Linked DNA regions of Homo sapiens. The protein of the gene in region 1 purifies or fractionates together with the protein of each later gene. This does not show direct contact. Each region holds a gene or a part of one and is shown on either strand. Other genes may lie near its edges.

What was found.
Region 2: the proteins of NCAPG2 (region 1) and SSU72 fractionate together in Homo sapiens (co-fractionation; one large-scale study listed by BioGRID). This does not show direct contact.
Region 3: the proteins of NCAPG2 (region 1) and VRK1 purify together in Homo sapiens (affinity purification with mass spectrometry; one large-scale study listed by BioGRID and IntAct). This does not show direct contact.

The regions. Positions count from the first base shown.
Region 1 is NC_000007.14:158,687,755-158,691,411, forward strand, and holds part of NCAPG2 (condensin-2 complex subunit G2), read right to left. Parts: intron 2,969-3,657; coding exon 2,814-2,968; intron 2,200-2,813; coding exon 2,065-2,199; intron 1-2,064. UniProt on the Homo sapiens protein: Regulatory subunit of the condensin-2 complex, a complex which establishes mitotic chromosome architecture and is involved in physical rigidity of the chromatid axis.
Region 2 is NC_000001.11:1,561,312-1,564,968, forward strand, and holds part of SSU72 (RNA polymerase II subunit A C-terminal domain phosphatase SSU72), read right to left. Parts: intron 3,606-3,657; coding exon 3,462-3,605; intron 1-3,461. UniProt on the Homo sapiens protein: Protein phosphatase that catalyzes the dephosphorylation of the C-terminal domain of RNA polymerase II. Plays a role in RNA processing and termination. Plays a role in pre-mRNA polyadenylation via its interaction with SYMPK.
Region 3 is NC_000014.9:96,877,292-96,879,812, reverse strand, and holds part of VRK1 (serine/threonine-protein kinase VRK1), read right to left. Parts: intron 2,312-2,521; coding exon of another isoform or gene 2,240-2,311; intron 1-2,239. UniProt on the Homo sapiens protein: Serine/threonine kinase involved in the regulation of key cellular processes including the cell cycle, nuclear condensation, transcription regulation, and DNA damage response.

The DNA.
Region 1 (3,657 bases):
ATGGATGGTTCCATAGTCTCAAATGAAAGAAAGCTTTAAATCTAGCATAGGTGGGTGGGAATGGAGTTGAATATCCCAGTTCATTTCACCTTCTCATTTATAGATGAGAAAACTGAGGACTCATATAGTTAAAAGGCTAAGTGTTTGTCAAGCTAGAATTTCCAAATACACAGTCTTCAAGTCATAAATACATCATGTGATGATAATTTATATGCATGCTACTAGATTATGTATCTGAACCTAAGAAGAATGAATACAATCTTCATACTCTATAGAGTGCATAAGATGCATCTATCTAGAACTCTCTCAGTGAATAGCACCTTCATCTCTTACCAGCACACCACTGCACAGAACTGGAATCCTACAGAAATGCAATACATTTTGATTCAAATGCAGGGTAACCATGCTCACAACAGGCAAGTTAAAAAAAAAAACAGTAATATTCACTGGAAGTAATCTGTTAGTACAGTACAAGATGTTTATGGTTTACCCAGAATGACTGGAAACTGACCTGACCAAATTAATGATTGATTAGGAAACTACATTTAGATATCTTAAATTCAAAGGAGACATCAATTTTTTAAAAAGGGTAGAGGTTATAACACATACATACATTTATGTCTGTTATATATCTGCACACATATATAAGTTAACAAGTACGATTCATCAACTCCTTATGTATAAGTCAACATAAAATAGTTTATTGTTTGAATCCATCATTAATTTCTTCACTCTCCCATTTCAGAACAATCCTGGAGACATGTGTGGGGCACAGGCTGTGTCCAACATCTTTGTAATAACGATGGTGCTGACACAGCAAGGATGGCAAAGGGCAGCCCTCCCCAGGGGTTCTTATCCACCAGCGCCTGGGCTGCGGTTTGATACATATTACCTCATCTGTTCCTAACAACAATCCTGTGAAACAGTAACTGTTGCTCCTATTTTACAGAACAAAACTCTGAGGCTGAAAGGCCTGACCAAGGGCACCACCTATAAAGTGAACAAAGACCCTGGGAGCCAAAGGTCTCAGTCCTAATCACATGGCCCTTTGTCTAGCAGACTGCAGATGGCTCGCCGGGGTCCAGTTCTGTCTCTGCCGCTGAGCAGCTGTGACACCTGGAGGAAACTTATTCTGTACCTCAGAGCTGGTCCTCCTCTTCCTCTGAAGCCCTTCTCCACCTCCTTCAGGGAGGAGGGATGACTTCCTCCTTCTGCCTCAGAGATGTGCCTGCTGAGCCATGAGCATCCAAATGCAAAAGCTTGTTCTAGTCTCCCCTGGCACTGCCTGAGCATGTAGTCGACGCTCAGTAAACAACTGCAGAAGGCCCCTAACACAGAAGAACTATGCGAGCCTCTCTGTAATTCTCAATTCTTTAGTAGTCATGTTAACAAAAGTAAAGAAGATTAATTTTAATAATATATTTTATGTAAAGCAATATTTAATATAACAGACAATAAAAATATTGTCTATTATATTAAGTATAGAACAAAAATTATTAATGAGCTATTTTATGTTCATTTCTTTCCCACTAAATCTTCAAATCCATGTGTATTTTATACTTATGGCTAATCTCAGTTCAGTTGGGTCCCATTTCAGGTGCTCAGTAGCCTCATATGGGAGTTGACCCCAGGACGGGCAGTGCAGCAACAGGCCAGAAGCCTCTCTGGATTTACAGGATGGGTAGAAAAAAGAAAGGGAGGATATTATGGGATGACAGTTTTGAGTACATGGCAATTAAAATGGAATTAGGGCAGAAGGCCAGATCTCATTCATAGAGAAGTGCTTTCTCAACCTTATTTTTAATCATTCTTAATTTAAAATGTAATTACGGTTCCCCTAGGTAACACACAGCCACCTGTTACCATCCAATTTAATGATGAAATAAGCAAGGACTTGTAAAATGTCTTCTCTAGTACTGCCATGCAGTAAAAATCATGTGCAGTAAATAGCTCCTGGTAGCTAAGCAACACCGAGCATGGTGCAGACAGGAACCATGTGAACACAGGAGAAACATCTATTAAGAAGCAGCTCACAAACAGATCAAAAAACAAATACCTATTTACCTCTTCTTTCTTGATATAATTAATATTTATGAAGCACTCAAGTAACATATCTTTAATTTCTCCACTTTCCTCCAAATCATAATCAAAGCAATATAAAGCTTGATGGATACGCCAAAGCCGACATACGTCTGCACCCTAGGAATGACACAAAAAATGTGATACCTTTTTCAATGAACAGTAAAGTCATATTTCAAATCAAGTATATTTTATATCATAAATAATGGTAATTCTAGTTGATTCATCAAAGATTAAAAAATAACGACAAATAAAAACAGATTTTAAAATTTGCAAATGCCCCCTATAGCTCTACAGAACATTTTTTTAAAACATAAGGAAAATAATTAAAAATCCAGCAAGTTTAAGAACTTCCTCGATGATGAAGATTTTATACATCTGAACTGTCTAGTGCAGTAGACATTAGCCACATTTCACTGTAGAGCTACTAAAATGTGACTAATGCAACTGAGGAACTGAATTTTTCATTATTTTTAACTTTAAATTTAAACAGCTTTCTGTGGCAAGTGGCTACTACGTTGAATAGCGCAGGTTTAGAATGTTAGGAAGACGTTTAAAAATAAAGTCCTAGCTAGGTGGTGCACTCCTGAAGTCTCAGCTACTTGAGAGGCTGAGGCAGGAGGATTGCTCGAGCCCAGGAGTTTGAGGCTGCAGTGAGCTATGATCATGCCACTGCACTCCATCTGGGCAATAGAGAGAGACCCTGTCTTTAAAAAAATAAAAAGTGAGCATACTGTCTTAGTCTCCAGACTCCTCCTTAGTAACATGACAAAGGCTGTCTTTCCTGTGTCTTCCTTGGCAGGCAGGCCTTTCTCCCACCAGGTAACACACAAATCCTGAATAGAACTCTGTAGTTTTCGTTCAGACTCAGGTAATGCATATAAAATACCTAAAATACAGCACAGTAATTTTCCAATTAGTAAGGCAAATTCTTATTACTTCAGAGTCAACAGTTTAGAGTATCATGACTTTATATATTATTTAAAGCTTTGCTAAGCAAATAATATTAGTTATGTTTAACTTGCCAAAGATTTATATACATTAGTTATAAAATGCAAATAATGTTAATTAAAAAACTGTTTGACGATTGTTATAAAAAGACCCTCAACAGACATAATAGAAAAGAGATTTTTGGAACTGGAAGTCTCAGAGAAATCGTATCACCAATTTTAGAAAGGCAGATGCTGAGGCTAACCAAACCTCAGTGTAACAACACCAATGGTATCTCTGTTAACACCAGAGCCAAGACAGGTCTACTGACCAATCAATAATCCACTACTATCCCTCAATGTGCCAGCCTCAAATTTTGGCTCAGAGGTGAAAAACAGTCAAAGCAATTACCATAATGAATACAAAAACTGCAGTGCTTTTATTAACAGAAAAGCTCAATAATTAGATTAATGATACTAATGCTCATAATTATAATCTGTAGGTATCTGAATGTCATTACACTAATATAACATTCCTGAATTAACTGGGAAGTTGATAGCAACTACAGTGTTAGCACTAATCATTTCACTAGTTATTTGCAGACCATACAAATAAACTGATAGTAAAATTCACAAAGCATTTGGAAGC
Region 2 (3,657 bases), on another chromosome or scaffold:
TGACCTCATGATCCACCCACCTCGGCCTCCCAAAGTGCTGGGATTACAGGCCTGAGTCACCGCGCCGGCCCGTCCTTTGTCTTGACGCTGTGAACACTCGACCAAGTGCTGCGTCTTATCTTTGGGCCGCATCTTGAACCCCGTCTTGCTTCCACTGCAGTTTACGGCGATGACTTCTGCCAACGCACCGGCTGCTGTGGGGCAGATTTGCTTTCGGGCTCTCACTTGTAACAGTCACTTCCCGCGGCCCCCCTGCACCCATCACTAACCAGGAAACGTTATCGGGGTCCTCCCGACCTGCACATCTCAACACCCCTGAGGCCCCACCCGGCATCGTGCCAGTGTCCACAGGGAACTGCCTGGGGACTTCACTCCTCTCCAGGCCAAGGGCATCATGTGCAAGAGCTTTAGCTAAGTGGCAGGCTTCCCATTCTGCACCTTCTGCCCCCACCTAGGGGGCAAAGACGCCCCCCGAGTGAAATAAGGTAATGAAGGCACGCTCCTCCTAGAGCCTCCTGAGGGGCCACCACAGGCAATGCCTTTCCCACACGAGGTCCCCAAAGCAGAGCCCGTGGCTGACAGTGTCCCAGCGCCACCCCTGCTGCCACTCCTTCCCCCCACCACACACCAAGAGCACACACACGCACGCGGGGTTCTTCTGGGCCGATGCTTCCTGGGAGATCACCAACCCCTACAGTCCCTCTGTAAAGGAGGAGCTTCCGAATTCTGGGACACTGGGCTCAGCTCCTTCTTTTAGAATGACCAGAGACAGGCTCATCCTCTGCCTATACCAAGTCCTTCCGGATGAGACTGCTGAAGCTGGACTCAGTCCTTGCAGAACGTGGCAAGTACTTCCCAGGTCTGGAACCCAGGAGGTCACAGTGGGCTGACATGAAGGGGCTGAGCTTACACCAATCAAGGGAGTGTGAGGATGTGCGTCACTCTCTGCTTTTCTTTCTCTTACTGAATATACAAGAACTTAAAAATAAACAGTGCTAACTGAAGAGTAATTGTCAAAAACAGGATGTCAGGCTAAGCTTCATGGCACAGAGTTTAATGTGAATCATGAGATGAGACAAAAGCCTCCTCCAGGGCGATGGGAAGACCCAGCCCCAAACCAGACTCTTGAGCACGCAGCCCTAAACCAGACTCCGGGAAGGGGCTGCGTGGTCATGCACCGCCTAAGACTCAGAGGTGAAGATGGGAAGACCCAGCCCTAAACCAGACTCCTGGAAGGGGCTGCGTGGTCACGCATCGCCTAAGACTCAGAGGTGAAGATGGGAAGACCCAGCCCTAAACCAGACTCTTGGAATAGGCTCTGTGGCCACCCATCGCCGTAAGGCTCCGGGATGGAGACAGCATGGACAGGGACCTCGCACAAAGGCATGTCGGGAGGGCCTCCTTTCCAAGGCACAGCCCCACCTGCTCCTTCTCAGCCCACGACGGGAGCAGAGCCATGTCGAAGCCGTGCCCCACACAGGGTGGACAAGGACATGGCCTGACAGCTCCTCAGAAATCCTTAGAGATTTTTCCAAACGCAGGTTACCAGGGCTTCTGCAGAGAGAGGGGCAGCAGGACGTGCTGCTGACAGTCCCTGGGGACTTACACTGACTTGCAGTGAGAGCCCACATCTGCCACCAGGATGGCTCCCAGCACCACCGCGTCACAAGCACCACACTCTCCACCGTGGGACGCCCAGATGGCTCGGCAGGCAGGCCGGGCTGGGGAGCTGACAGCAGACGCCTGGGACTCTGCCCAGCGTCCTCACCCACAACCTTTTAACTGTAACTGGCAGAGGAGACAGCAGGGAGGGCAGAAGGTACAGTGATGGCTAGGATGCAGTTCTAGGTTTTGCCAGACATACTTTCAGGGGCCACTCCTGGCTACCTAATTAATCTACCTGTGTATAAGAATTTTTTAGCTTATTAAATATTCCAAGAGGCCAGGCATGGTGGCTCACGCCTGTAATCCCAACACTCTGAGAGGCCGAGGCAGCTGGATCACGAGGTCAAGAGTTCAAGACCAGTTTGGTCAAGATGGTGAAACCCCCGTCTCTACTAAAAATACAAAAATTAGCCAGGCATGACAGCGGATGCCTGTAATCCCAGCTATTCGGGAGGCTGAGGCAGAGAATCGCTTGAACTTGGGAGGGGGAGGTTGCAGTGAGCTGAGATCAAGCCGCTACACTCCACCTTGGGCAACAGGGTGAGACTCTGACTCCATCTCAAAAAAAAAAAAAAAAAAAAATACAAGAGTAGGGCTGAGCATGGTGGCTCACGCCTGTAATCCCAGCACTTTGGGAGGACGAGGAGGGTGGATCACCTGAAGTCAGGAGTTTAAGACCAGCCTGGCCAACATGGTGAAACCCTGTGACTACTAAAAATACAAAAATTAGCCAGGTGTGGTGGCGCGTGCCTGTAATCCCAGCTACCCAGGAGGCTGAAGCAGGAGAATCACTGGAACCCGGGAGGTGGATGTTGCAGTGAGTCTGCAGTGAGCCAAGATCTCGCCACTGCACTCCAGCCGGGGTGACACAGTGAGACTCTGCTGGGAAAGGGCGGGGATGGCAAGAGTGCCAATACATAGACAATGCTGGGCAAGGCCAGAGATGCTGGTCAAGGGCGGGGATGTCGGGAGAGGGCGGGGATGGCAACAGTGCCAACACGAAGATAAAAGGTTTAGCATTTGACACCTATTCTCTTTTCATTTGGAATACGTTTGGCCTGGCCTCCGTTCTGAAAACTACAAATCACTCACTATAACAAAATAAGATCCAGAAACTTTCCATTAGCGTGGGGGTGACCATGAAATGCCTGGTCAAAAACCCGGGCACTGATTGTCATAACCATTATGCAACTGGTGTTGCGTCCATCAGAATCTAGTTTAAGAATACTCTTCTCTCTATAGGAGTCTTCGCGGCAGACCTAGCCTGCTCTGTGTCCTCCTGAAATGAAGGAATGTTCTCTCCCATTATTTCTTCTAACAGCTTGGTTAGCAAGCTCCGCCCTCTTCTTTATCTGACCTTCTAACGACCTCACCAGATGTGTGAAGCAGCCCGGCTCCATGTGTATCAGGCACGCACGCACACACGCACGCACACCAACCTGCAAAGGAAATAACGGGGCAGCCCTGCAGTGTGAAAAGCAATGGGATTTTGTGGGTTCCACCTCCTCACCTAAGCATCCCTGGTCTACGCTATGTCACGACCCTCTGCTGAACCACGTCAGGGTGAACCCCACACCGTGTCTGTGCGCCTCACCACGCCTACTGCCATGGGTGGCACTGGAACTAACCCGTGGACGATCCGACGTGCACCAGGAATAGAAACCAAGCTCTCGCAAAGACAGAGGAGCCAGTGTGTGCACTGCACAGGGTGACACGCCTCCTGTGCCCGAGCCACACGTAACACCTTCCAGGGAGGACCACACGGGGGGTTTTTAAAGGGCAACCCGCTGGGATACAGTTCTTTGTCTTTCCTAAGAAGATCATTGTACATCTGGTCATATGTGGTTTTGAAATCATAAACATTGGGCTTGTCGGGAGCTGGTCCTGGAAGCTTCACGTGAGTCCCTGTTCCAAAGGATCGGACGCTGAATCCCCGTTTGCTGAAAGACAAAAGGAGAGAAAGAATCACAGTCACACTAAGACACAAAATTC
Region 3 (2,521 bases), on another chromosome or scaffold:
AGATTACAGGTGCCTGTCACCACGCCCAGGTAATTTTTGTATTTTAGTAGGACTTAGACTTTCACCATGTTGGTCAGGCTGGTGTCGAACTCCTGACCTCAAATGATCCACCCGCCTCAGCCTCCCAAACTGCTGGCATTACAAGCATGAGCCACTGCGCCCGGCCTATTTCAAGAAATTTGAAATTAATTCTGCACAGAAAACTGAAAATGCTGCGATAGTGAGACTGGCATAAAGGGTATTACAAAATCAAGGTCAATAATCAATACTATATCTCCCTTTCAACACATTTTAAATCTTTAACCACACTACAAAGAACACTAAATTAACAACTATAAAGTTACATTCAAATAGCATTATTCTCATTAATGTCTTAATTTGCCATTTTACTCTGAAATTAAATATCACTGCTGCTCATCTCCTTCAATCCAAAGTTTCTCACTGCAACTAAAAGGGCTACTACTGCCTGGAATTTATTATATAATCAGTCCTACGCACCTTGTTGACTTTGCTGCATAAATCAATTCAATATTTTCCCTAATAATCAATTCTGATTGTTACAAAAAAAACTACCTTATCTCTTTAATTAAATATATAACCATTTTCATAATATACACTACTGGCAAAGGGTCCAATCAGAAGACTAATGTATATAATTTGATATTTGGAAAATAACATACAAGTTTGGGATGCTTTTCTATGATTTTATAATGCAGTAGGAAAAAAAAAGTAGGAAATTTCTTTGTAGGGTTCCCTTAAAAATATCTACTTTTTGACTAGTCATGCTTTCTCCAAAGATTCCTCAGGAATGGTCCAAAATCCAAGGTTCTTAAAAATAATACCAACAAAAGTAGCCTCCATTTTATGAACAGGAGGGGGGAAAGTACACCAGCCATAAATATCATGGCTATATTAGCTAATTTTTAGCACAATTCTGAAATACTGGCATGATTTTGAAATGCCAAAATATGCATGATTTTTAAAGGCTCCTCATTTTGTGAGGGGAAAAATTACTTGCAGCCAGTAACCAAATTTTCTCAACTGGTAAAAATTATGCCTTGCATAAAAATAAAAGGATTAGAGGCCTCTGTTCTTCTTGAAAACCATCCCATCACCTCCTCTATTTATTTGAGAAAACCTACACAATACACATTTTGAAAGCTTTCAGAATGTGTTCTTACACAATAGACCCCCAACTATTCAAAATGAGTTTAGGTGTATCTAGAAAATTATACACATTTTTAAAATGGTCTAAATAGATATTAAAGGAAAGTTGCTCCCATTTTGCTAGGCACAGCATTCTGAAAGATCACACAGTGCGAAAAATCTCTTACCATACTGTAAATCATAAATTGTGTTTGAAAATAAAATTGTTAATGAAGAAACTGACATTTCTAAAGCTGCTGTTAGAGGTAACCATTCTTGAAACACGTTTATGACACAAAATCTTAAAGCCCTAAAACACAGTGTTCACTGAATTGTACTATATATCTTAAAAATTAAAAAAACAAATGTAATAATGTGTCTTTTCCTTCAAGTAACTTTTAAACTGATAAATTTAAAAATATACATTTACATGAACTCTTGGCTTTTTCTTTTTGCTGGAAGCAATAATATTTTACCATCAGATAATATTTCTCTCACTTATGATTATTTTGATAGTAAAATACCTTAACTCGCATTGTACTTTAGGGGAAAAAAGTGAACTGTAATGGGGGAAATAAACAGCATTTTAAGAACGGCAATTTTGAGTTTATATGAATAAGGGTGAATCTGACTATTCTTTATCTTCTGAAAAAGTTAGGTCAAAAAAACTGAATTGTTCTCCTTAAATTATTTATGACTTTACTATACTCTTTTGTCATTAATAAAATAACAAAAATACTGATATATTTTCTCATGGGAAAAAGCATCAGTAGAAGACCTTAAACTAAAAACTTAGGTTAAAAAAAAATTCATAATTATACTAGAATTTAAAGGCATTTATCTATCAAAACAAAAACGCTTGATGCTCATTAAGCAAAGTTCAGGTAACAAATGATGTCCAGGCAGTCAAGAAAGGGATGAGTCTTCCTGATGCGCAGCTGAGACTCTGCCTTAGACTTAATGAGTGTCAATCTCACTAGAACAATGCAGGATCTTTCTGAAACTAAAATTGCCAGTTTTAAAATTTAAGGGATTGTTTTTTAAGAATATTGCTGTATATTTATAAATACTCCTTAATTTTGTTCCCACTCACTGTCATAGCTGCTGCTGCTAGCCTCTGGCTGAGACATGCTTCGATGTATTGCTCCTTGGGACTCCTCACTTCCTAATAACAAAATGAACAAGACAGGGGAAAGGAGGAAAAAAGACAGTAGCGAAAGGAAGACAGCAGCGGGAAAAAGAGAGGGACTACTTCAAAACCTCTCGCCTTCAGTGTGAAGTTATATATTCCCTCTTCAGGTATCTCAAGTATTCTTTGGGTTAAAACAGATTAAACCAAAGGATGTTCTAACCATAATATGTAATGAAGAACATA